Linked DNA regions of Homo sapiens: regions 1, 2, 3, 4 and 5 are each linked to region 6. The links come from fine-mapping of genetic effects on gene expression. A gene starts in region 6. Each other region holds a variant in brackets. All regions are shown on one strand. Distances are from middle to middle.

The links. PIP is the estimated chance that this variant, and not a neighbour inherited with it, causes the effect.
Region 1: its variant is the best candidate, but not a certain one, in a credible set for the expression of WDFY2 in pancreas (GTEx, PIP 0.54).
Region 2: its variant is the best candidate, but not a certain one, in a credible set for the expression of WDFY2 in tibial nerve (GTEx, PIP 0.62).
Region 3: its variant is the best candidate, but not a certain one, in a credible set for the expression of WDFY2 in whole blood (INTERVAL, PIP 0.53).
Region 4: its variant is the best candidate, but not a certain one, in a credible set for the expression of WDFY2 in whole blood (TOPMed, PIP 0.53).
Region 5: its variant is the best candidate, but not a certain one, in a credible set for the expression of WDFY2 in whole blood (TOPMed, PIP 0.52).

What each region holds. Positions count from the first base shown.
Region 1 is chr13:51,789,458-51,793,546 of GRCh38, reverse strand. It overlaps DHRS12 (dehydrogenase/reductase 12), which reads left to right. Exons shown (of 9, transcript NM_001377533.1): 3 at 2,290-2,382; 4 at 3,455-3,536. Among named protein-coding and RNA genes, the nearest start is that of DHRS12, 13 kb to the left of the region's middle. The variant G/T (reference allele first, on the strand shown) is at 2,160.
Region 2 is chr13:51,732,754-51,736,842 of GRCh38, reverse strand. The region is part of intron 6 of WDFY2 (WD repeat and FYVE domain containing 2); the gene reads right to left. All of the region lies in intron 1 of LOC124903177 (a long non-coding RNA gene), which reads left to right. Among named protein-coding and RNA genes, the nearest start is that of DHRS12, 69 kb to the left of the region's middle. The variant G/A (reference allele first, on the strand shown) is at 1,903.
Region 3 is chr13:51,901,168-51,905,256 of GRCh38, reverse strand. It overlaps a transcript of TMEM272 not described here. Among named protein-coding and RNA genes, the nearest start is that of CCDC70, 41 kb to the right of the region's middle. The variant G/T (reference allele first, on the strand shown) is at 2,319.
Region 4 is chr13:51,764,270-51,768,358 of GRCh38, reverse strand. It overlaps WDFY2 (WD repeat and FYVE domain containing 2), which reads right to left. Exons shown (of 12, transcript NM_052950.4): 12 at 650-4,089. It overlaps DHRS12 (dehydrogenase/reductase 12), which reads left to right. Exons shown (of 9, transcript NM_001377533.1): 9 at 63-366. The coding sequence ends at 172. Among named protein-coding and RNA genes, the nearest start is that of DHRS12, 38 kb to the left of the region's middle. RefSeq lists an enhancer at 3,519-3,838. The variant G/A (reference allele first, on the strand shown) is at 2,042.
Region 5 is chr13:51,611,324-51,615,412 of GRCh38, reverse strand. All of the region lies in intron 1 of WDFY2 (WD repeat and FYVE domain containing 2), which reads right to left. Among named protein-coding and RNA genes, the nearest start is that of WDFY2, 29 kb to the right of the region's middle. RefSeq lists enhancers at 848-937, 968-1,027. The variant A/G (reference allele first, on the strand shown) is at 2,242.
Region 6 is chr13:51,582,708-51,586,796 of GRCh38, reverse strand. WDFY2 (WD repeat and FYVE domain containing 2) reads right to left here and starts at 2,335. Exons shown (of 12, transcript NM_052950.4): 1 at 1,973-2,335. The coding sequence starts at 2,109. It also overlaps the pseudogene RNY1P6. RefSeq lists a silencer at 2,115-2,484 and enhancers at 2,625-2,904, 2,563-3,083.

The DNA of each region.
Region 1 (4,089 bases), 210 kb before region 6:
AACCTGACTAGACTTTCTGAGTCATGAAAATGTGGAGTTGCTTTGTCTCATTTGTCTCAGGTGAGAAAACAATATGTTTTAAGATGAGTAGAAATAAATTCGACTACAGCTTTGAGTTTTATAGCTTGATTAATGGGGAAACTCAGGCAGGGCACGGAACTTCTCTGCTTTGTCAAAGGAGTTGTGGCTCTTGCTCAGATCCTCGTCTGTAGGTTCAATACTTAGGTGCCCTCTGCCTTGGGTTAGTGATAAGTCACGTATGTCCACTGATGCTCAGAGAGGATGCCGTTGCATTCATTGGATGCTAAGAATGCAAGTTTGGACTTAGGTACTGGGTACAGAGAAAAAGGTTTAAACAGCCAAGATCCATTAGTCGACTACCATGCCTATGACTGTGTGTAATACCATAAGGAGAAACGGCACATTAGACAGGGTCCCTTACTCATGGAGTTCTAAGCCTGCTGGGGAGGTGGCTGTGTCCAGTGATAACCATGATACAAGGCAGAGATTGAAAAGTGTCATGAGCAAGGACTAAGGGTCACAGCAGAAGTTGTCATCTTATTTATGATGTGCCTGAGATACTGTCTGAAGAGCAAACTTTTGACCAAAAAAAAAAAAAGATCAGCAGCAGGAAACCCTGACATATCCATGCAAAGGTAAATTATGTAGTCATTAAAACGAATAGGGTGGATTCATATGTAACAAAATCATCTCCAAGACCTCTTGTAAGTCCTACAACTCAATAGCAAAACAAACAAACAACGACGTAACTTATAACCGGATTTGAAAATGGTCTAAAGACTTGAATAGACATTTCTCCAAAGAAGATACACAAATGGCCAACACAAGCTGGGCACGGTGGCTCATGCCCGTAATCCCAGAACTTTGGGAGGCCAAGGCAGACAGATCACTTGAGGTCAGGAGTTCAAGACCAGCCTGGCCAACATGATGAAACACCGTCTCTCCTAAAAATATAAAAATTAGCTGAGCATGGTGGCATGCACCTCTAGTCCCAGCTACTTGGGAGGCTGAGGCAGGAGAATCACTTGAACCTGGGAGGCGGAGGTTGCAGTGAGCCAAAATCATGCCACTGCACTCTAGCCTGGGCGACAGAGTGCAGTGGCACTCTTTTTCTCAAGAAAAAACAAACAAAAAACAAATGGCCAACACATATATGAAAAAATACTTTCAATGTCAGTAGTCGTCAGGGAAATGCAAATCAAAACTAGAGTGAAATATCACCTCACACCTCTCAGGATGCTATTGCTAAAAAAACAAAAAACAAAAAATGTTTGTTAGGTTATGGAGAAATTGGAACCCTTGCACACCATTTGTGGAAATGCAAAATGGTGCAGCCTCTATGGAAAACAGTATGGAGGTTCCTCAAAAAATTCAAAATAGAGCTACCATCTGACCCAGCAATTGCACTTCTGGGTACTTATCCAAGGGAATTGAAATCAGGATCCTGAAGAGCCATTAGCACCTTCACGTCCATTGCAGCATTATTCACAATAGCCAAGATGTGGAAACAACTTAAATGTCCATCGACAGAAGAATGGACAAAGAAAATGTGGTACATACCTACACACATTGGAATATCATTCAGCCTTAAAAGGAAAGAAATCCTGCAACGACATGGATGAACCTGGAGGAGCTAACCCAAGTTCAATAAGCCAGGCACAGAAAGACAAAGACTATTCGATTTCACTTATGTGAGGTAGCCATAGTACTCAGAATTCATAGAACCAAAGAGTGGAATGGTGGTTGTCAGGGGCTGGGGGAAAGGAGAAATGTGGAGTTACTATCAAAGGGCACAAAGTTTCAGTTAGGCAAGGTGAATAAACTCTAGAGGTGCACTGTACAACATTGTACCTAGTCAGCATGCTGGAAATTTTGTTAAGAGGGTAGATCTCATATTAAGTATCCTTATCACAATAAAATAAAAAAGTAAAAACTGTTTTTACCACCAAAAACTAAAAGACATATTGTTAAGTGAAAAACACGGATGTAGAACAATGCATAGTCTGATCCTATTTGTGTGGTGTATGTATATATAAAATATATATCTTAAAATATATGTATTGTATATATAGTATATGCTTAAAATATTTCTGGATGATTCACAAAAAACTGAACAATGGTTTATTTTTGAGGAGTGG[G/T]ACTGGTATTTTCCGTTTTATATCATTTCAAAGTATTTGCTTTTTAAAAACCGTATACTTTTTTAAAATTAAAAGTGCTAGTTTATATCTTTTTAAAAAGGGTTTTTTTTTTTTTTGCTTTCTAATTTAGAACATTTTTCTGCACATTGTGGACTTGTCTGATCCCAAGCAAATCTGGAAATTTGTTGAAAATTTCAAGCAGGAACATAAACTCCATGTTCTGGTGAGCTTTGTAAACATAAGTGGAGAATAAATTCATGTTGGCCCATTGTTTCCGTCTGTGGATGTGGACGGATATGTATGTTTGCCTGTCTTTATGGAAGAATCTTAGTAAGACTCTCTTATGCTTGGGCCTGTTCATGGAATCAAGTTTACTCATTGGATTTAAGAGGAGACGCATGTGGTTAGATTAGTGGGGAAAGGAAGGGGCCATCCACTGGGTAGGTGTTGTGGGAGGATAGATATGTTCCATGTTTTATAAAATGATGATTTGTATATAAATTTTTCTCAATTCTGTAGATTTGGGGATTGGTGTGTTGAAATTAGAAGCTCTTTTTGTCCAAAAGAATACCTCCTGCAGACAGGCAAATCTTTTAGTAACATAATTAGCACAAAACTCCATGGAGAGCCTGGGTAGACTCAGATAGAAAGAGTCCCAGTGTGCTCTTCCCAGATACTCTACTTGGAGCTAAGTTGCTTTTCTATCCGAAGAGTTTCTGATGTGCTCTGAAACGTTGTTCCAGAGTCTGGAATTGTGCTGTCCAGTGTGGCTGTGAAGCATTTGAAATGTAGCTAGTCCAAACTGAGATGTGGTGTAAGTGTATAAATTAGCAGGTTTCAAGGCCTGAAAAAAATTATCTATGCCATCTCATTAATATTCTATATTGATTACATGTTAAAATGATGCTATTTTGGATATATTTGGTTAAATATATTATTAAATTAATTTTACCAGTTTCTTACTACCTTTTTAATGTGGCTACTAGAAATCTTAAGATTAGATATTTCTATTGGACCGTTCTGGACTAGATGAATTTCCAGAGCACTCTCTCATGAATTAGGTTGCCTGGCCAAGCTGTCTCACTTGGCGATCTTTGCACAGTTCTGTGGCTGAATCCTCTGCACAAGTGGTATTTTCCTGCAAAGGGTTTGGAGTAAAGAATCAGTTGAGCAAATTGTCATTGTCACTTGAAAGTTGAAAAAGAGCTGGGGGTGGGGTAGTGGAGGTGTGGGGATGGAAATAGGTCTTTTGGCCCTATTTTTCTTTATTTTGAAATGAGAACTATAAATTTTAGATCAATAATGCAGGTTGCATGGTCAATAAAAGAGAGCTCACAGAAGATGGACTTGAAAAAAACTTTGCTGCCAATACTCTGGGTAAGTACAAGAAGTTTTCTTATTTGTTTTTAGCAAAATAAACATAGAATGTACCATAGAAGGGTAAAAAAAAATTGACCAACTTTTTTGGTTCTTGGTCCTGGGCCTGATGACGTTTGCTTTAAGTTTATTCTGAATTGTACTTATTTTTCTTCATAAAACACTTTCTCTTTTCATGTTTCTTATAATAGGTGTTGGTGCCAGAAATACTTAGTATTGAAGTGTTTTTTTTCCTAGGAAGCGCTAGGCTGTTTATAGACATTGTTTTGAAGAGGAGAGCAAGTTCAGCTTAAGTGTTGAGTGCAAGTCTAAAAACTGCAACCAAAGGAACTTCCAGCCAGGGCTGAGGAAGGTGCAACCAGTGGGCAAGAAGATGGACCAAGAAGCGCATTGGCTAGAGCACAGATACCTGGGCTCTGGTTGCTACTCTGTAATAGCAGAGTGAAGTCATTTTATATCAGGCCAGTGGCTCTCCAAGTGGGGTTCCCAGACCAGCAGCCTCAGCATCACCTGGGAACTTGATAGACATGCACATTCTTAGATTCCCCACCCA
Region 2 (4,089 bases), 150 kb before region 6:
TAGACTTCCCTGACCGATATATACCTACACATCTAAGAACACTACACCATGGGGCCGGGTGCGGTAGCTCACGCCTGTAATCCCAGCACTTTGGGAGGCCAAGGCGGGCTGATCACGAGGTCAGGAGTTTGAGACCAGCCTGGCCAATATGATGAAACCCCATCTCTACTAAAAATACAAAAATTAGCTGGGCGTGGTGGCGCGCACCTGTAGTTCCAGCTACTTGGGAGGCTGAGGCAGAAGAATCGCTTGAACCCAGGAGGCAGGGGTTGCAGTGAGCAGAGATCACGCCACTGCACTCCAGCCTGGGCAACAGAGTGAGACTCCGTCTCCAAACAAAACAAAACAAAAAACACTGCACCATGAGGAGCCAGCTCTCTGCCTTCTTTGTTGGTGACTATGGGATGAGGATGGTTTATGGGGATAGAAGAGAAAGTTTGGATATGGTATTATAAGTGTACAGGCTCTGGAACCAGAATCTAGTCTTAAATCCCAGCCCTATCTTTATTAGGTATAGGACCTTGGACAAGTTACTTAACGTTTCTGTGCCTCAGAAGTCTCATCTGTAAAACAGGGATGATAATAGTACCTAACCCACAGTATTGTTGAGATTAATTGGGTTAATATATATAAACACACACAACAGTGCCTAGCACATGGGAAGCACCACTCAACAAATGTCAGCTATGATTACAGTACAGGAGACCTCATCTATACAATCTCTGTGACAGTGTCCTTTGTTGAGTCAGCCTTAAGGCCAGTCAGCTTATTCTATGCTATCCCAGCCATCATGAGATCAATTAAGGTCTTAAAAACAAGACCAATCTCTAGCTTTGCCACATTATATCAGGCCAGAAGGGGTCAGGGCTAGGAAGGGGAGTTCTTGGCAACACAGAGAGTTAGGAAGGCAAATAGATAAACTGGTTAAAGCAAGTCAGGGTATATTCATCAGACACTCCCAGGGCCCAAAGTGGAAGAGATAGAAGGAAAAGCTGCAAGACAAGAAAAAGTTTAGGATGGTGTAGGGAGTAAATAACTCTGGGGTCCCATGCCTGCTCTATATAAATGTCCTAACAATGAGGTCATTTGAAAGTTGGCCTATAAATGATAAATCACAGCATTCATTTCAAATCAGTTCAACAAGCATGTATTGAGCCTCTTCTATGTGGAGGAACTGTGCTAGGCTCAGCAGATACAATGAAATAAGACTTACATTCTACCTACCAAAAATGTACAATGATAAGATGATGGATTACTTTTGAGAACAGAAGAGCATGCACGTTATGTTTGGTCGAGCCATTCTCTTACGGGATATGTGACTGCTTCCCCTGTCTGGAGTGCCTGTCCTGCCTTTTATCACCCAAGTAACTTTTTCTCCCTCCAGGAAGCCTTCCCAACACCTTCAATCCAGGTGAAGTTCCAGTCTCTGTGCATATCTCTATTGCTACACAGACCCCACTATATTGAACTTGGTTGGATTATAAGTCTGTCCCCACCGCAGACTTTGGGTTATGTATCTTTGTATTCCAGCACAGCACACAGTGACTGGTATGCAGGAGGTGCTCAGTAGATGTTTACTCAACTGATCTGCTGCATTGAGTGGCAGAGAGAAATAGGAGGACAATAAGCAAGAGGCATCCAGGACAGCCTGGGATGGCGGCTGGTGGGAAGGCTGTGCAAGACATCAGGATCAGAGATGCAGTGGGGAGAGCTGCTGATGGAAACGGCCTCTCCCTTCTGAGGGAATTTTTCCTGCATCTCTCTGCACACAGGGCTTCCTGATGAACTGTATAGTTCTTTCTCCTAACACTTCTGGCAGCAGAGGAAGTCAACCACCTTCAGCTACCCTGCATTCCAGGCAGTGCAGACACATATCTCATACCCCAACCCACACTGGGGGCA[G/A]AGCCCAGGGCTTCAATGCTTGTGGTTTTCCAGTGTTTCTATTTTAAATGACAAAAAGCATTTCTTCCATTTCATTTGACTTCATTTCAAGTTAATCCATCTTTCTGGTCCCTTTCAGTGTTTCATTTTATGCTTCTCCCTTCCTTTGACCTCCCTAATATGACCTACAGAATAATTTTTAAATAAAAATGGTTTAATTCTTACAAATAAAGTTTTCTAGTTATTCTTTAGTGGGCACAGGTCTTCTATTAAGGATGATGAAGAAGTTCTGGAAATGGATAGAGGCAATGGCTGTACAACACTGTGAATGTACTTTATGTCATTGACTTGTGCATTACTTGTACACTTAGAAGGTTGAAACGGTAAAGTTCAGGTTACACGTATTTTATCAAAATAAAAAAATCGCCAAAATATTTTTAAAATAAAAGTTTTCATAATTATACAATGTATACTACTATATACTCTCATAAATATAACTGTTAGTGGTTGGCTAATATCTCCCACGTATGTATCTTATTTCAACTATTTTTAGATTTTTCTCAACTTTTAAGTATGAATTTTTCTAAGATGAATATTTTTACACATACAATTTTGTTCAGGTTTCCAATTAGTTAGAAGAGAATCCCAAATGTAGAAATGAATCAGAGAGTATAAAGATTTTTAGAAATTTAATATATATTACCAAAATGCTTAGGGAACTAATTTTTTTTTGAGACTTTTACCACATACCTTGCAAAAGTGAATGACCACGTGGAGTGTTACAAAATCAGGGTTGGAAACTGCTGGGTCTGCCTTTCCCAGAGTGTGATCTGGTAACTTAGCAGAGGGAGTGTCACACCACACCCTCAAGGGTAATATGTGCAGGCCAACATGAGGCTAAAGGAGACTAAGAGCCTGTTGAATAAAATATCTGACCTTTTGATTGCTGCATTTTGCTCTAGAGTGAAGTGACAAGGGTTTTTGTCAAGCTAAAGGCCCTCCATCTCTAGAGTATACCTTCTTCCTGAGATCCATAACTCTTCACCCAGCTGTCTCTTTGCTGCCACCCCAGGGAAGTGTTCAGTTCAAGCACAGTGCTATTGTCTCCTAGACCTGCTCTCCCAGCAGTACTCCAGGTTTCAGGAAATGCCATCACCAGCCAATACATGCTCTAGACAGAAGCCTTGGGAGTCACTGCTACTCCATGCAGTTACCAAATGCGGCTGACCCCTGTTCTCCAAACAGATCTTAAATCTCCTCCACTTGTCTCCACACACACTGCTGTCCCCCAGTCCAAACAAAGTCAGCTTTCCAAGGGACTCCAGCAGTAGCCTCCTAAACAGTCTCCCTCCATCCATTCTGTTCCCAGTCAATCTACCACCTACTGCTGCCACAGTGGCTTATTAAAATGCAAACCATGTCACTACTCTGTTTAAACTTCATCACTGGTTTCCCGCCAACCTGAGAATAATGCCTGAAGCTCCTACCACTACTTGTAAGGTCACTTGCCTTTGTGTGGTTGCTAACATTTTCCCACTCTAGGCTGCTGTTCTGCAGGTCTGGAATGTTCCCACCACCTACATAACTCCTTTTTCTCCTTAAGGTGCTATTTAAACACCACTTCTGGCTGGGCACAGTGGCTCACGCCTGTAATCCCAGCACTTTGGGAGGCTGAAGTGGGCGGATCACCTGAAGTCAGGAGTTCAAGACCAGCCTGACCAACATAGTGAAACCCTATCTTTACTAAAAATAAAAAAACTTTGATGGGTGTGGTGGCGTGCACCTGTAATCCCAGCTACTCAGGAGGCTGAGGCAGGAGAATTGCTTGAGCCCAAGAGATGGAGGTTGCAGTGAGCTGAGATCGTGCCACTACACTCCAGCCTGGGTGACAGAGCAAGACTCTGTCTCAAAACAAAAACAAAAACACACTTATTTGGGAAGCCTCCCTTTAATTATCCGCAAGAGGAGTGGACCTTTTATTATTTGCTTCCAAAGAAGCCTCTGTGCACATCAGGGCTCCACGGCACCTGCTACTCATAATGTTTGGATGAATTCTCTGTAACTACTGGTCTAATGCATGCATTCCATGCTGGCTGGAAGATGGATAAGGGCAAAGATTATGCTTGTTTTATTCACCCACATTTCCTGGCACCATCATATACATAGAGAGCGGATGACTGACTATGGATGACAATTCACATCTCTTGA
Region 3 (4,089 bases), 320 kb before region 6:
TCCAGTGTCGTGACAGCTCTTTTCTCTGGAAGAGGGAGGACAGTCTCTCTCCCTGCACGAACTGCCTTCAGCCTGACATTTCTTCTCCTGCTTAGGGCCGTTCTCTGTTGACTGCTTCGTGTTGTCTGCTGTTTCTCTTAGCTCAATGCTTCTCAACGAGGGTGCTTTTGACCTCCCCCAGGAGCATTTGGTAATGTCCACAGATATTTTACACAGTAACTACTGGAGGTGTGCTACTGGCGTCAAGTGGTTGGAGGGCAGGGATGCTGTTAAACACCCCACAGCACACAGAACAGACTCCCACAGCAATTATCTATTCCAAAATGTCAGTACTAATGAGGTTAAGAAACACTACTAATGATGATGTTCCCCTACCTGGTAAATAAAATTCAAGGTTTTCAGCCTCCACATCAGTACAGAATGAATGTTTCTTAATTGAAATGCTTGGAGCCAGAAGTGTTTTAGATTTAGGATTTTGGAATATTTGCATTATATTTGCTGGTTGAGCATTCCCAAACTGAAAATCTAAAATCTAAAATGCTCCAATGAGCATTTCCTTTGAGCATGACCTTTGAGCATCATATTGATACTCAAAAAGTTGCAGAATTTTGAGCATTTCAGATTTTTGGATTGCTCAACCTGTACTTTTCACAATATCTTGAAAACGGACCATGCTTATCTTTTCTCTTTTGATCTAGAGCCTCCTTCTTTTCCACGTCCATACCATGAATTCCTATTCAAGCCCAGAGAAAATTATTCATTACTACTATGCATTAGCTGCTGAAGGCCAGGTGATGTTTTCCCAGATCTGACTCATCATGATCATGATCATCAATTATCATTATCATCATCATCAACAACAATTACCTTAGGGTCATCATAAGAATTGCATATAAGCTAGCCACCAAGCAGTCATCAGTCATCTGCCTTTAGCCCAGTGCTACCTGAATTCAGTTTCTGTCATCATGTATTTCTTAATTTCAAAATAGGCAGCAGCACTAAATCTGGTCCATGGGCTCATTAACATCATCATCATCATCATCATTAATATTACCATCATTGTCATCATCACTGCAAAGCAGGCAACAAGCAGTCATTAAGCTCATGCTGATTCTGATGCTGATGGTGAATGAGAAGCAGCACTGCAGAAAACCACCTCATGCCTAGCATCCCAGGGCCACAGGTGCTGTGTGTTAGATTGAGTGTTCACTTGTCCAGTGTGAATGTATTTTTGTTAAGAGTTATTGGCCTTTGAGTTTCTGGTGACCAGATGCTTCTTTCTAAACACACACACACACACACACACACACACACGTGGAAGACTGTTGGAGAAACCCAAATGGTGTCATAGGAGGCAGGTGTGAGAAGACACTTTGGTTGCACAACCAGGTATGATTCTGCCAGAGCAGAAGACCCTATATGGTTCTCTTTTCTGCCCCAGCACTGCCTCATTATGGCTATGATAGGTTTATTGAAGCTAAAGTTTGGGCATTCTGGGGCAGCCTTTGCCCCACACCCACACGAGTCTTTTTCATTTTTCGGTTGCCACTGAAGTCTGGAAATAGCACTCTGCCTTTTCCTCTGGCCCCATAGAAACCGGGACTTCTGGGTGTTTAACTTAGCATCTGACTCCATTAGATGCTCAGGGTCTCCTGCACTTACACCTAGGGATAGGAAAAAGGGGTGTTCTGGGGAGAGTAGGGGGAGCAGTTTGCCCTCTATTTGGTGGCTTTCCTTGTACAGTGGAGAGAGCAGCCAGAACCTGAAGTGACAACTGAGACATCGTCATCTGACGTAGAGTCTCTCTTCCCTCCCTGACCTCGTTGGTGTGCCACCTCTCCCTCCCTCCCATTTCCAACAGCATGCTTAGGAATGAGTTATGAAGTGTCTTATTGGAAACCAAGACCTCAATGGCAATGAAGGGAAGACACTATAGTTAGTTATTATTGATCATCTCTACCTGCACTTTCTATATTTGCAAGCACTTTTTGGGACTTAGTGAGTAATAAATAAAGTGTCTCTAGATCACCTTGCTGCTTCCCACTGCTGCTGCCTCGTGCATCCAGTTCTAGTTGTGTACCTCCTGGATACACACACTAAGGAGGTGAGACCTTCAAAAGAAATGCAAAATATTTCCACAATTGTGTTTGTGTACAAACTGACCTGTCAAAACCAAAACTATATTTAGGTACTAGATTATAATCAACACCCCCAGTGGATGCTATTGGTGCCTTGCCCAGGGCCCCTTTACCAGGCGGATGCACTCATCTCCCAGCTTTGAGTATTGCTCACCGCAGCCACCTGCTTCCTGAAGAATT[G/T]CCCTTGCAGAGCAGAAGCCACCATGCTAGGAAGTTATCCACTCCCTCGGCATCACATAGCCAATAACCAATTGCTGTCAGGGCTGTGTTAGTTATCTGTTTCTCAAAATAAATTACTCCAAAACTTAGTGCCTTAAACGGACAATGAATATTTGTTATTTCACAGTCTGTGTGTGTCAGAGATTTGGGAGCAGCTTAGCAGAATGGTTCCCGTTTGGGTTTCTCAGGAGGTTGCCCACAGACTGTCCATCAGGGCTGCAAGTGACCTGCAGGCTTGACTGAGGCAGGTGGCCTTGCTTCTGGGGTGGCTCACTGGCCTGGCTGGCAAGGTGGGGCTGGTTGTTGGCAGAATGCTCAGTCCCTCTAACCATGGGACTCTCCCAAGTTCAGCTTCTAGAGTAGCTATGATAACATACTTTCTATAAAACCTATATTCTAAAATGTATTTAATAAAATAACTTTCCTCTAATTTTTAAATCTGCAACATTGCAGCAGTTCATTTTAGACATTGAGAGGCTGAACATTTTAGATTCTGGTTCTAAAGGCATGTGGGTGCCCTCAACATCAATAGCAGCAGCTAATAATTCCCAAAGCTTTTCCAGGCGCCAGGCCGTGAGAAGGGCAAAATGTGTTGTGATTCTGTTGAAGTAATGCCTACCACCCCTTCAGTCCCACACTGAAAATGTAACAAGGCAACTGGGAAACTGTCTTCAACATCAGTGCTTTTTTTCATTTTGCTTCTCTTGATTTTTACATCTTACAAAACTGAGAATCCACCTATATTTATTCTTTCATCCAATGCACGTTGGCTTCTGACCTCACCCCTGAAATGGCTTCTCCAGAGGTCTGCAGTAACCCCCCTGATACCACATCCCAAGTGATTCTTTTCAGTTTTTTTATTACATGACCTTTCCATGGAGCTTGACCCCAGTGGATAACTTCCCAAGCTCCTCCTCCTTGAAACTCTCCTCTCTTGGATTTTGAGCTTGGATGACAGAGTGAGAAAGGCCTGGCGTTTTTGCTCTGGACTGGGTAACCCAATGAAGCTATGTGGATTTTCTGCACAAATTTGGAATGTAAACACACCCAATGGGGCTTCTGCCCAGAGGATTGTAGCTAGGCTGGGCTGGAGGTAGGGAAAGCAGGGAGGAGGCTACGTGTTTGTGGGAGGAGGCTGATAAAGCCTGAACTCGGGGAGGCAGTGAGCCTTAGGAGAGCAGGTAGATTCTAGATACTTAGGAGAGCCACTGTCACAGAGCTTTGTAAAGGGACTTGGGATGGAGTGGGCACTGGGGGAGGGCAGAAAGGAAAATAGAGACACTGAAGATGTGTCCAGGCTTCTCCGGGGGTAGTTAGTAATGCCATTGACCCAAGTCAACTGATGTATTTCTGTGTTTTTGTTGGATTCTTCTTCATTTTTGACTTTCCTTGGCTATATGAATTTCCAGAAGTACCTGTTCCAGGGGCAACTGACAACTGAGAGGGGTGTGAGGCATGGGAGGGCGGGTGGGGCACAGGCAGCTCCACCGGGCGCCACCCCTCTAGCAGGAGTGGTTTCTTTATATGTACCAGGGATATTTCTGCATTGAACTCTAGACCATGTGGAACTTGGCTTTTTAGCAGGTCAAATGCCAGGCACAACTTTCTAGCTGGACCAGATGCAGCCACACTCAGGAACCGTGCTTCATTAAAGTGTGTGTGGACCCAGGTTCTCTTCCTTCACAATTTTGTGAGTACAGATGAGGTTGTGTGGACATTAACATCACAAATA
Region 4 (4,089 bases), 180 kb before region 6:
GGACATGGACCCAGCCACGCTGCAGCAGCTCACACCTCTCTGCGGTTCCCTCTCACTTTTAGATCGGAAGCCAGTTTCTACACACTTGCCTCTCGCTACAGCGTCCTCCTCACCGGCCGAAGAGGAGAAACTCATTGAAATCCTGGAACAGCTGGCTCAGACATTTAAATAGGCCAACCCAGACACAGTGCGGTACCAGAATTGCCTTAGAAGATACCAGAAGGTGCGGTCTAGGGACCAGTGAATAAGAAGACCCCACTTCAACTTCCCCTCGAAGACGTTGTGCCTCACAGCGAGGCCTACAAGGGATGGGAACTTTTATTTCAAAATAAATACTACCGAGGCTGTGATCAGGCTCACCTTGAACTCCTGCAGCAGGTTCTTTTCTTATTTTAAGTCTCATTTATTCGAGAATGGTTTTCTAAAGAATTCGAAGTTTGAGATGAACCATCATTTCAGTCTTAGGGGACGCAGGGGTGGGGGCAGCAGGAATGCCCCCCTGTGAACTCCACTTCCCCTCCCTTTCTCAGCTCCTCCAGTGTCAGAGGCTGGCGCTGTGCACCCCCCCCCCCCCCCCGCCCCAGGAGAGGGCTGGACACTGCCTTTACTGTGCATGGTCCCAGAAGCACAGCATAACCAAGGGACGATGCATATTTACACAAACAATTTAATGAGGCCTAGTTTACATTTGCTTAAGATTAGGAGTGGCTTCAGTAATGCATCTGGCATTCTGGTACTACACTTTGATAAAACCTCTAATTTACACCATTTTACCTCTTAGTGACTCCAGGAAAAGTTGTAATAAAACCAATGAGCAGATTTAGAATACATCTACATACATTCTTGGTGTCCATGGTGGAATAAACGTAACTCATCCCCCATAGCAGAGGAAAACCCAGACGGCTGCAGCTTCTCAGTGGTCCTGGAGACACTCTGATCCAGGGCTCATCATCAGCCAAGGACCACAAGGAAGGGATTTTTCTGGGTGTGCCAGCCTGAAACATCAGCGTCTTTCTGACAAAAGGAGGCGCTATCAAGCAAGCACCAGCTCCATTTAACTGCATGCCTCCTTTTCTGCAGGAGGATGATGGGCCTCAGCAATGCTGGGTGTGGGCGACGCTGTGCTGGCAGCACCAGGACGGGGCAACCCAGCCACCCCCTCAACGGTGATTCCATAGCATGCAGGTCACTTGGTGCCTTTGCACCTATTTTTCTTCTCCATAAAATGAACCTCACAAGTTTTAAATGAGGCTTTCCCTGGCAGTGTTTGCCCCGAAGTCATTTCTCCTCACTGGAAAAGTTTACTAAGCACAAGAAAAAGCTGACTTACATGATGAAGGAAAAGGGCTCCATGGCTTGAGCCCGTGTGCTGTGCTTAGACTGTGGTGAACAGGGCTCATCTTCACCTCCAAACAGCAGCTCTCCCTGGCATCTAGACAGCAGGTGGAGTGGTCTGGAACCTCCCCCTCCCACCAACTGGACAGAACCCACAGGGCTAAACAGCACAGCAAGGTTGTCGGTGTGTGCGTGGCCACATGTAACCGTGATGGGACCATAGCTGCAGAAAGGTTTTCACAGAGATTTATTTTAAACCGTGGCGGCAACTCCGCATTGAGAGTTGTACATTGGTAATGGCTACACGTATATTTTGGTTAGAGGAAAGCACAGTGGGAAAGTGAGCGGAGTAAAAACATTCACAATATTCAGCAGCATTTGATTGGGGGCCTGGATACAGATGTTTCAATATCCTAGGAAATTCTTGCTCATTACCACCTAATCACATTCAGGAAGTCAATGTCAGGACTGGCAGGGAGTGTGGCAAATGCCGGAGGGGTCCAGCTAGACCACACGGGAGAAATCTGTTCCAATGTCAGGCTTATTACATTCTCAGCCTGACCCCCTGAAGAATCTCCTCACTTTAAAAAAAGAAAGAAAAAGATATCCATACGGTAATATGCCCACTGCAGCCAGGTCCAGACTTGGGCTGCAGTCCGGTGGATGTAGAGAATGGAAGATCCGTGTCCCTGGTTAGAAGTAGAGC[G/A]GTGGGCAGGCACTAATGTGGGGCCAGCACCTTCCCTGTTGTCCAGTTAGTAACGGTTTTTGTACATTTCATATAAAGATTTCCTTTTGCAAAATGACAGCACCTTGAAAAACAAAGTCATTTAAAAAGCAAGGCAAATGGTGTAAGACACAAATCCATAAGAGTACAATGGTTACAAGTGACGCTAGGGTTTTGGCCATACTTCATAGTGGCATATACTACTGACGTAAGGCTGCCATCCACTAAAATGATAAAAAGTGTATATGTGAAACATTTTTCAAATCATTTTCCCTTTTTTTGTGAGTGACAGCTCACCTTCTCATGCATCCCCGAGAACCAAGGGAAAAAAGAATCATAAGTAACAAGGTCAGATTCTCAATCTAACTTTTCAGCCAACCTGCAATTCTTGACACTTCCAAGAAAGTCAGATACTCTTCTTGACTTGTAAAGGTAAACATTTTGAGGTATCTATTTTTAATGAGATGGTACCATGATTAATTTCCACCCTTACCATCTTTAAAAAGAATTTTTTTTGCCCTACAAACTCATGAAAAGAAACTTCACCATCTTTTCTCAAAACCAAACCTAGCAGGCTCTAGATGGAAAAAGTCCAGAAAGCAACTCACTTGATATGATGGAAGACAACAAAGGCATGTGGTGATAGGCTCTCCGTTATCCAAGGGAAGCCAGCAATATGCGGGCAGGTCACTGGTGATGGGCTAGGCATGTCCAATAATAAACGAGACTCAGGGAATCAGAGAATCACAGGATTGGAAGGGACTTTAAGAATGATGATCAAATTCATCCCTCAAGCCTTTAATCTCCCTTTCAACATCTCTGGCAAAGGCTCTACACTGTGTGTTAAAAAAATTCCCTGGTATGGGACATGCAAGGAAGACATCCCATTCCAATTTAGGACCGATCTAATTTTTAGACACTGCTTTCATGTGTTAAACCTAAGTAGGCTTCTTGGTGGAAAGGAGATAATGCTTAAAGGCAAAAATACAAACCACAACCCTGGAGGGTTGACGTGGTTCTTGGTTAAGAAACTGAGCTGAAGTTTAAACAGGAATGCAGATGTTTCTGGACTAAGTTTTGGACATAGATCTTTGGGTCCTACAAGGAAAAGGCAAATGATGTGATAGCAAAGACAGGCGCTGCCATGCCCCTGCACGGTGTTCCTGCCTCCACAGGGCCAGGTCTCCCAGACAGACCTGTACCTGAATTGACGAAACTCTCTGCCTTCCTGTTGCAAGTGCCCCTGTAAGGAGGACCTCCCACATTGTACTGGAATCATCTGTGACTTGCAAGAGCAGGAAGTGGAGGGCAGCAGCTGCCTGTGTCTGCACCCAAACACTCGGCACCGCCTGTCCGTGCAACGCCACACTTGACTAGAACAATCCTCTCCTGCCACAGGGCCAGGGCTTTCCTTTTCCACAGTGGAGCAGCTGAGCCCAACACACCTTTGGCGTTAGTCTGGGAGTCCTTCCTGGTTGCGGGCCGTGCACTGATAGTCTCCACCTCCTCCTCTCAGACTCCAGTGAGAGGCTGTGCACCCAAAGATCCAGAATTAGTTACCCTGAGTCACCTTCAGTTAACAGTTCTAGGGATTTCCAAAGAAAAAGAAACTGATACTATTATAATATAAACTAATAGTAGCATTGGCTGCAGGAGGAGCCTCTGGGGAAACCCCTCGTGGTGAGCTGTGTGCTGCTTTCCTCTGAGGCCAGGGAGCAGCAGCATCTGATAGTGACGAGCTCAATTCTGGGATGGCAGCTGAGCCACTTGGCTGTTCTCCGGCAGCTCCAGCCCACTTGTGATCCCTGGACACACCACACTGACTCCAGCTCTCAGGCCTTTGTTTGTTTATGCTGTTTCTGAAGCCTGGAAAGTCATTTCCATTTTTCCCCCTTATGACTCACTCCTCATCCTTTAACACTGAGCTCAAAGTCCCTTTCCTCTGTGAAGCCCCTCCTGCCACACCTGCTGGGTTAGTGGCACCCTGGCATGCCTCTATCATAACCACATTGCACTGAAAAGACCCATTT
Region 5 (4,089 bases), 29 kb before region 6:
ATTTTAAAAAATATTTACCAATCTGGGAATCAAAAAATGATGTTTCAGTGTTTTTTTTTTAATTTGCACTGATTTAATTATTTGTTTCCAACTTTATTTTTTACTATCTGTATGTTGTCTTTGGAGAAATATCTACCTGTCCATATTTTTTATTTTTTAATAGGGTTAGCTTTTTTATATTATTTGAGGCTTTTAATCTATTATGAATACTAAGACTTTTCAACTTGTGTTGCAAATATCCTCTCTAACTCTTCATTTATGAATGCTGGCTTTCAACATATGAATATGGTTAAATTAGTCACAATTTCCCATTATAATTTCTGGGTTTCAAGATAGTTTTTAAACTAATTCCAAGCTTAATAAATCAATTGAGAGAACACACCCACAAAGGATACAATTAACCCCGTGTTTTTACCTCTTTATGTGCACTCTGAGCTTACTTTATTCTTTTACATCAATGTGTATATGATCTCTCAGAGTGCTAAGGCACTCAAAGAACCCAGCAAAACACCCAGTGTAGATTTTCAATAAATGTTCATTTATTTCATTCCTCCTGAGTCCCATTAGTTTAGAGACAACAGACACATAATTCTTTTTAAAATATTTTCCAACAGAATTCCAATTGTGTTCAGGGTGACAACGTGCCCGGCCAAAACTACATTTCCCAGCCTTGTCTCCAGCTACGGGTGGCAATGTGACACAGTTTTGGTTAATGACATGTAAGCGGAAGTCACTGAACTGAGCTTCCAGGAAGCTCTTTGAAAGAGAACAGGCACAGCTGGTACGTGCCTTTTGCCATCTGCCCTTCTCCTCCTTCCTGCCTGGAAAGCAGATGCAATGCTGACTGGAGAGCAGCCATCGTGAGGCTTCAAAGGGACAAGATCACTAAGGATGGCTGAATGGAAAGGCAGCAGCACCATGGGTCTCTGATAGCATCTCTGAGCCACTGACCAACCCTAGAATGCCCACCTCTGGACTTCTTGGTATAAAAGGAAAATAACCGTTTACTTGTTTAAGACATTGTGAATGAGTCAGGTTTTCTGTTCGTTGCAGCAAAATCTAGAATCTAAACTATATATCAGGGTTCACTCAACATCTTCATATAAATTTTAAAACAACCCTTTCATTTTCATAGCTTGAGATAATCCCTTGAAGAACAGCTATGCTGGTTTGAAAGGCAAGTTCTCTATTCACAGATACACTTTTTTTTTTTTTTTTTTTTTTTTGGAGACCGAGTCTCGCACTGTCGCCCAGGCTGGGGTGCAGTGGCACGATCTTGGCTCACTGCAACCTCTGCCTCCCAGGTTCAAGCGATTCTCCTGCCTCAGCCTCCCAAGTAGTTGGGATTACAGGCGCCCACCACCAGGCCCAGCTAATTTTTTGTATTTTTAGTAGAAACGGGGTTTCACTATGTTAGCCAGGCTGGTCTCAAACTCCTGACCTCATGATCCACTCGCCTCAGCCTCCCAAAGTGCTGGGATTACAGGCATGATTACATGGGACGCCTGGCCTTATTCACAGACATACTTAATTTTAAAAGGAGAAATCAAATCATTAAACACTTCAAGTACAAAATTCAAGAACACCCTTAAGGAGAAGTCAGTAATCAGCAACATATGGTGTCACCTGTGCTAACTTGGTGTTAAATTACCCTTATCAGCACACCACATGGCTTGTTTTAGCTGTGACATAAAATTTAGGCATCTAAGACTTTTCCACGAAAAAAAAAATCACAGCTAAGAAGGAATTCTTAACAATTATACAAGACTGAGTATGTATTTTTGTCATTAATCCATTCCCAAGAATTTGGGCTCACTTGTAGCTTGAAATGAAGAATTAAGAAAATATTACAGAATGTGCCCAGGGAAAGACCCACCACTGTCCAAAATCATGTTCTTCAAAGTATTTCACTAGATAAGGAAGGAAATGCACAAGCTGATGGAACTATTTAACCACTCTACTACTGGAAAGAACAATCTCAAAATGTAGTCCTGTTTTAGTCCTCACTTTAGCTAGCCAGCCTCTCAGAACCGAAGAATGAGCAAAAGCCCCGCAAGAGGAGCAGATTGAGCCCTCGACAGAGGTCCTCTCCAGGATGGCAGTCATTTCAGCTTGGGAAAGAAGGGGAGATGGGGGGCATATGCTGTAAGCTCCAGGAGACTGGAGCTTTGTCATCTTTGCAGCTTCTTTTTTTTTATTTTTTAGAGACAGGGTCTCATTATGTCACCCAGGCTGGAGTGC[A/G]GTGGCTATGCACAGGCATGATGATCACACACTACAGCCTCAAACTCCTGGGCTTAAGTGATCCTCCCACCTCAGCCTTCCGGGTAGCTGGGACTACAGGCATGCACCACCGCACATGGCTGCAGCTTCTTCATGATCAGCCACCACGGCCTCCACCAAGAATAATTTTCTTTTCAAAAACACCTAACCCTCCCCCACCAAAGTGTCTTTCACATGGCATCAGATATTTTTAAATTGAATTTTTCAACTATGAATAAACTCCCTTACTCACATTGAACACTGTCCTGATTTGCCTCTGTAATAAGAAGAAATATACCACATGCTACTGATCACAATCTCTGCACCCTCTACCTGTAAGGGGGAGGAAGGTGGAGAAAGAATAGAGTAGAAAACAGAGAAGAAAGTCAACAAAGAAGGACAATGCACAGAACATAATGTATATGGTCAACCATAAACTTTCCACATTAACAAAGAACTATACAACTGCCAAAGCCAGACATAAATCCCCTATTCCCAACTAGTCCAAAGCATTGGTTAGTTATTATTTTAATACTTCCTTTTACAAATGGACTATATCACTTCTCAGAGTTTAATACACTTTTTGGCATATGTATCTACAAGCATAGACAGAGCTTAACAAACTTTTTGAAATGTGTACCTATAAAACAGTAAAAAAAATTTAATTGTAAAAAGACTTCTAAGTGTTAATTTGAAACACAATTTGAAAGTGTTCAAAGTTCTAATTTATGTCAGCCAAGTTAAGAAAAGTTGGTAACAAGATATCAGTAAGAATTCCAAAGCAGTATCTGTCATAGGTAATCAATCACCAAATACTTAGGAACTGTCTAAAATGGATTTCATACATAAATACCTAAATTTGGTAATCCAGTTCCCTCCTAAACAGGGAGGCAGGGCTGCTTTATAGAGAAGCTACACAGTGGAGCAGGCCATAGACTAGAAATCAGTATGTGTCTTAATTCTCCTAGCTTCACAAGTGAATTCACCATCTAATGATGATCATTCCATGTAAAGCTCTGTAATTCTCAGTTTCCTTGCCTGTAAAAGGTAATAATGATATCAATATGAATTAGGATGCTCTCAACTAGAATAAGGAAAATGTATTGTCTGGTAAGAAGAAGTCAAGCAGTAGGGCAGCTCCAGGGTTGGTTCATTTGACGGCTGGCTCTTTCCATATTTCTTTTCTGCCATATTCAGCCAGTCAACTTATTTTCAGGCTACCTTTCCTTATGTGCGCATGATTGTAGCTCCAAGTAGTCACATTCAGTCATGACAACAGGCAGCAGAAAAACAGGGATCATTCCTGTGTATTTCTTCCCAGAAGGGAGTGAACTTTCCTTTCCCAGAGGTATCTCCTTCCTTATGACCAGCAGACTTCCCTGCTCCTATCACTGGCCAGAACTGGGTCTCATGCCTAATCCTAAACCAAACCCCTGGCAAAGGGAATGAATTTACCATAACAGACTTGGAGTCATCAGGATTCAGTCCTGAGTCGTATGAGGTAGGGGTAAATACCTAAACAAAATTGAGGTTCGACCAGCAAGAAAGAATGAAGCAGACAACTGAACAGATAACCAACAGTGTTGTGAACCCCTTACTTCACAGTACCATAGTGACAATCAAATGATAAAGCAAGAAAAAACTGCAAAGTATAAAATGCTTTATAGATCCAATATATTATTATTCATTTAAGATTTGTTGTATGCTGAGGCAAAATCTCAACGATAAAATAAATTCATTGAAAACAAAGGATATTCTTTTTTTAAAAAAATCACAAAATAGCAAACTATAATGACCACCATTTCTAACACAGTAAAATGTGAGGTTTTG
Region 6 (4,089 bases):
TAACTCCATGACAAAATAATTTCTATTATTTACATTGTACACTAGGAAAGTGAAAATTAGGCTAAGACATAGCTGAACATTGCATTTCTTTCATCCTATAATCAAATGAAATTTATTCTTCAGTTTCATTAATATACACTACTTCAGCGTCTCCAAACACTTGAAAATATACCCCAGTAAAGCTGTTTCCTTCAAGGTAAATGTGGTGAAATGGGAATCAGAAGTTTCAATACTATAATAACACCTTAATATTAAAGGAGCTTAGGATGGTCTGAAGGTAGTTTTATTATCTCAATTGTTCACAGTCAGTTACAGATTGAACTCCTTGTTCTACTCTCTTCCCCTTCTCACTACCGTACTTAACTAGTCTTAAAAAAATAAATAAAATATTAAAGCAGCTTAGGTTTAACTACCCTTCTCCTTTTCTTGATTCCATGAATTTGCTTATGAATTTTCCACAGCAGTTAGAAATTGATCAGTTCCATCTCCAGTAGTTACAGACTGGGAAAGTGACATCTACCAATATATTCCTTCAATATATTTTATGGAATATATCCCATAAAAACAATACTGTGCCAAAGAATTTCTAGGTCCAGAAGCAGTCTTTTTAATAAAATTTTGCCTTTATGGAAAAAATCAAACTTTCTCATAAGGCTTCTCTGTGAATTTCAAAAGGGTCCTACATCCATGTACTCCATTTCAGCCATGAATTTCTTCTGTTCATTGCAGAATGCTTGCCACTGGTGTATGTTTACAATGTTTTCCATTGGATCTGCACAGGAAATTAATCAGGCGCCATTTGTATTGAGCATGATGTAGACAAGAACATGTCATTAATATACTCATCCTAGTTATACTGAAGAACCTAAGACATGAACAAACCTATCGAGCTCAATTGTTGAGGCCACACACTATGCTAAGTGCGGAAATGACTATAAAGACAGCAATGAGCACTTTGTTGCTCAGCCTCTCAATTTTGAGTCACCAAGAAAGGATACTTTACCTCTGCATGATTTGAACTTATATTAAGAAAACCTACTTACTGTAAAATCCCCGTGTTATGTACCTCTACAGTGTTCTTTTGTAAGAATGCTTATATAGATTTTACCAAAGAAACAATTTCAGATAAATTATCATAATACTATCTTCAAGCAACATTACTCTAGAAATTAGCTTCATCAGCTTTATTCCTGCATATTCAAGGAAATTCAGTTAAAGCGAAAACGCAAAACAGAGAGAGTATTTGAAGGCAGAACAACTAGTTCCACTTCTGCATATTAAGCAAAATTAAGCAAAAATAAAGGAAACAGGCAAAGGGAAGGAACTCAAGAGCTATTTGCAGCAGTGATCCGTTACAAGTTCTACGCGCTTCTCCTCGAGCTCCAAGAGATAAGGAGGGGAAAGGAAAGAAGGCACCACGCAGAAGCCTAAACTTACTCTTGGTACAACTTAGAATATTCACTGAATTCAGCCTAAGATGTCTGGGTTATCTGGATTCAGTAGGAATGTCTGGGAAGAAGGAGTGGCATTTGCTTTCTCCGTTTGAAACCCTGGGAGCTGTACGAGAGTACCCCAAACCCCTTGGTTATCTTGCAGAGGCGGCTCAGGGCATCGTTCCCCAAGCACACACCTGCAAAGCCGGGCGGCTCCTCCCCTCTTTCCCTCCTGTCCTCAGGGATGGACCAAAGTCCCTCCAGCGCACCGTTAGCCCGAGGGCCACCCGGCTCCCGCAGGCACTACCCAGCCCGGGGTGAAGCCGGAGCGCTCGCCGCCGTCCCGGCTCCGCTTCCCGGAGCCACACAGCGGAGGCGGCGCGCAGCTGAACACCGGCACCACCAGGATGCGCATTACAATAAAACTTGGGGGAGCAAGTCTACACTCGCGCCGACGTGAAGGCACAGCCCCTGACGCGGGCTCGAGGGCCGTCGGCCCGTCCCGCCCCTCCTCGCGGCCGAATGGCAGTAGTCCATACCTGTCCTCGGAGACGCTGATGACGCCCTCCTCTTTGGGCACGATCACGGCCATATTCACCACCTCCTGGGACCCCTCCATCCGCTGCAGCAGGATCGGCTTGCGGGTCAGAGGCTTGGGCTGGATCTCCGCCGCCATCGGAGGAGGGGGCGCGCCTGGGGCGCCGCCGCCAACCGCGCCGCGGGGCCGGGCTGAGGAGACTGCTGGAGCACGGACACAGGTTGAGACAGAGACTCTGGCTGGCCGGAGCGGAACGCCGGAAACCGGCGAGCATAGCCTGGCCGCCTCTCTCGGGAACGACTCCGCGCTCCCTGCTTCAGGCACCAAAACCGCCACGACCTGGGATGCAAGCCGGCGCCACTACAAGAGGAGGGGGCGGAGCGCCGGGGGGCGGAGCCTGTGTGGGCGGGGCCTGCCGCAGGGGGTAGCCGCTGGTGGGCGCGAGGGCGGCTCCACTTCCGGGAGGGTGGTGAAGGAGGAGGGGAAACCTGGAGCAGGAGGCGGGGATCTGGTATCCCAATGCGCGTGCGTCAGTCCCGCAAGCCCATTTTCACCCCTCCCCTCCGCGACTCCCCGGGCGCTGCAGCACCACTAGGACGCATGCGCTTTCCGTTCCTCGCGGTCTTCTCTCTGCCTTACACACCCAAGGGTTAGGCTCCTCCCTCTTTAACCTCCCGTGAACGCGCGTATACACACCCCTGGGGACGCGCTTGCCAGACGCCACGCCCCTTCGAAATTCCCTGAAAAGAGGGCGGAGGTGGGGCGGGGAAAGGAGCGCCTCAGCAAGACCGGAAAGAGAAGAGGCCTGCAGGAAGGAAAGCCGCCCAACTCGTTGGGACGTGACTTGGCATGCGCGCGGGCTACCTGGCCTAGCGGTCTTAACAATGAAGCGCGGCGGGAGGCCGCTTACTGCTCCCAACATGCACCAGGCCCAGGCTGCCGGAGGGAACCCAGTGGCCTCCTGGGAGTCGTAGTTTCTTGGAGCCTCCGCCCCCTTGTCCTGGAATGACCTATCGCCCACTTTCTGCGCTATGGGCCTGAGGAGCTCAGCGGCCTCCAGGGCCATTGGCCAAGTCAGGACCCAGACTTGCCTCTATGGGAACTGAGGGGCAGCCCCCAGCTGAGTAGGACGTCACCACTCCTAGGGTCAGACTGATGCTCGGAATAGTGGCACGGAAGGGACATGAAAAGGAGAGAATCTTTCATACAGACATCTTCAAGGGAGCTCAGAGAACATATGGGGTGTCTATCCCCTCGTTTTCTTAGATGGCTAAATTACACAGCCAAGGTTACTTTAGTGCAAAGTTAGGGCTAAACAACCCCTCCTTCCCTCCAGACTTGAACCCAGGCCCCTAGTGCTGGCTTCTTTCCATTTCCCCAGCAATCCAGCCTTTTTAGCTTGCTCCAGACACAACGGACAGAGTTACTGTAGTTACTGACTGAATGTTAGGTGCCTACCAGAAGGCCTGGCATGTGGGGTTGATCGTGAAGACTAAGCTCTGCTTTTTTATCTTGCCCAAATTCCTATCTAAGGGGTCTGGGGAGTCATGGCCTACAAAAACCATAAATTCTCATCAGATGGGTTTTGACCATGTAGGTCATGACTTACTTTCCAGTCTGACTCTGGCGTAACAAGGAAGAAAATCAAAATGTTTTACCCCAAATTATATTTCCTTGCCATGCCTTAAAATTGCCCTGCAAAGTCTCTTGTGGGAAAAATCCACATTCTATATCCCCTTTCCCCTTTGTTTTCCTTCCTTCCTTCCTACACCCAGGAGATAACCAACTAAGAGCCAGGCACCGTTTTAGGTCTGGTAAGGAACATTTTACAACCTGCTGTCTCTAAAGGCTGCTATCTAAAAGATTCCTCTGCACAATAAAACCTGGTCTCCACAATCCTTTACCTTAACCTGAACATTCCTTTCCGTTGATCCCAGGTCTTCAGATAAACTCAACCAATTGTCAACCAAAAAACGTTTAAATTTACCTATAGCCTTGAAGCCCCCGCTTTAAGTGGTCCCACTTTTCTGAACCAAACCAATGTATTTCTTAAATGTATTTGATTGATGTCTCATGCCTTCTTAAGATATATAAAACTCAGCTGTACCCCGACCACCT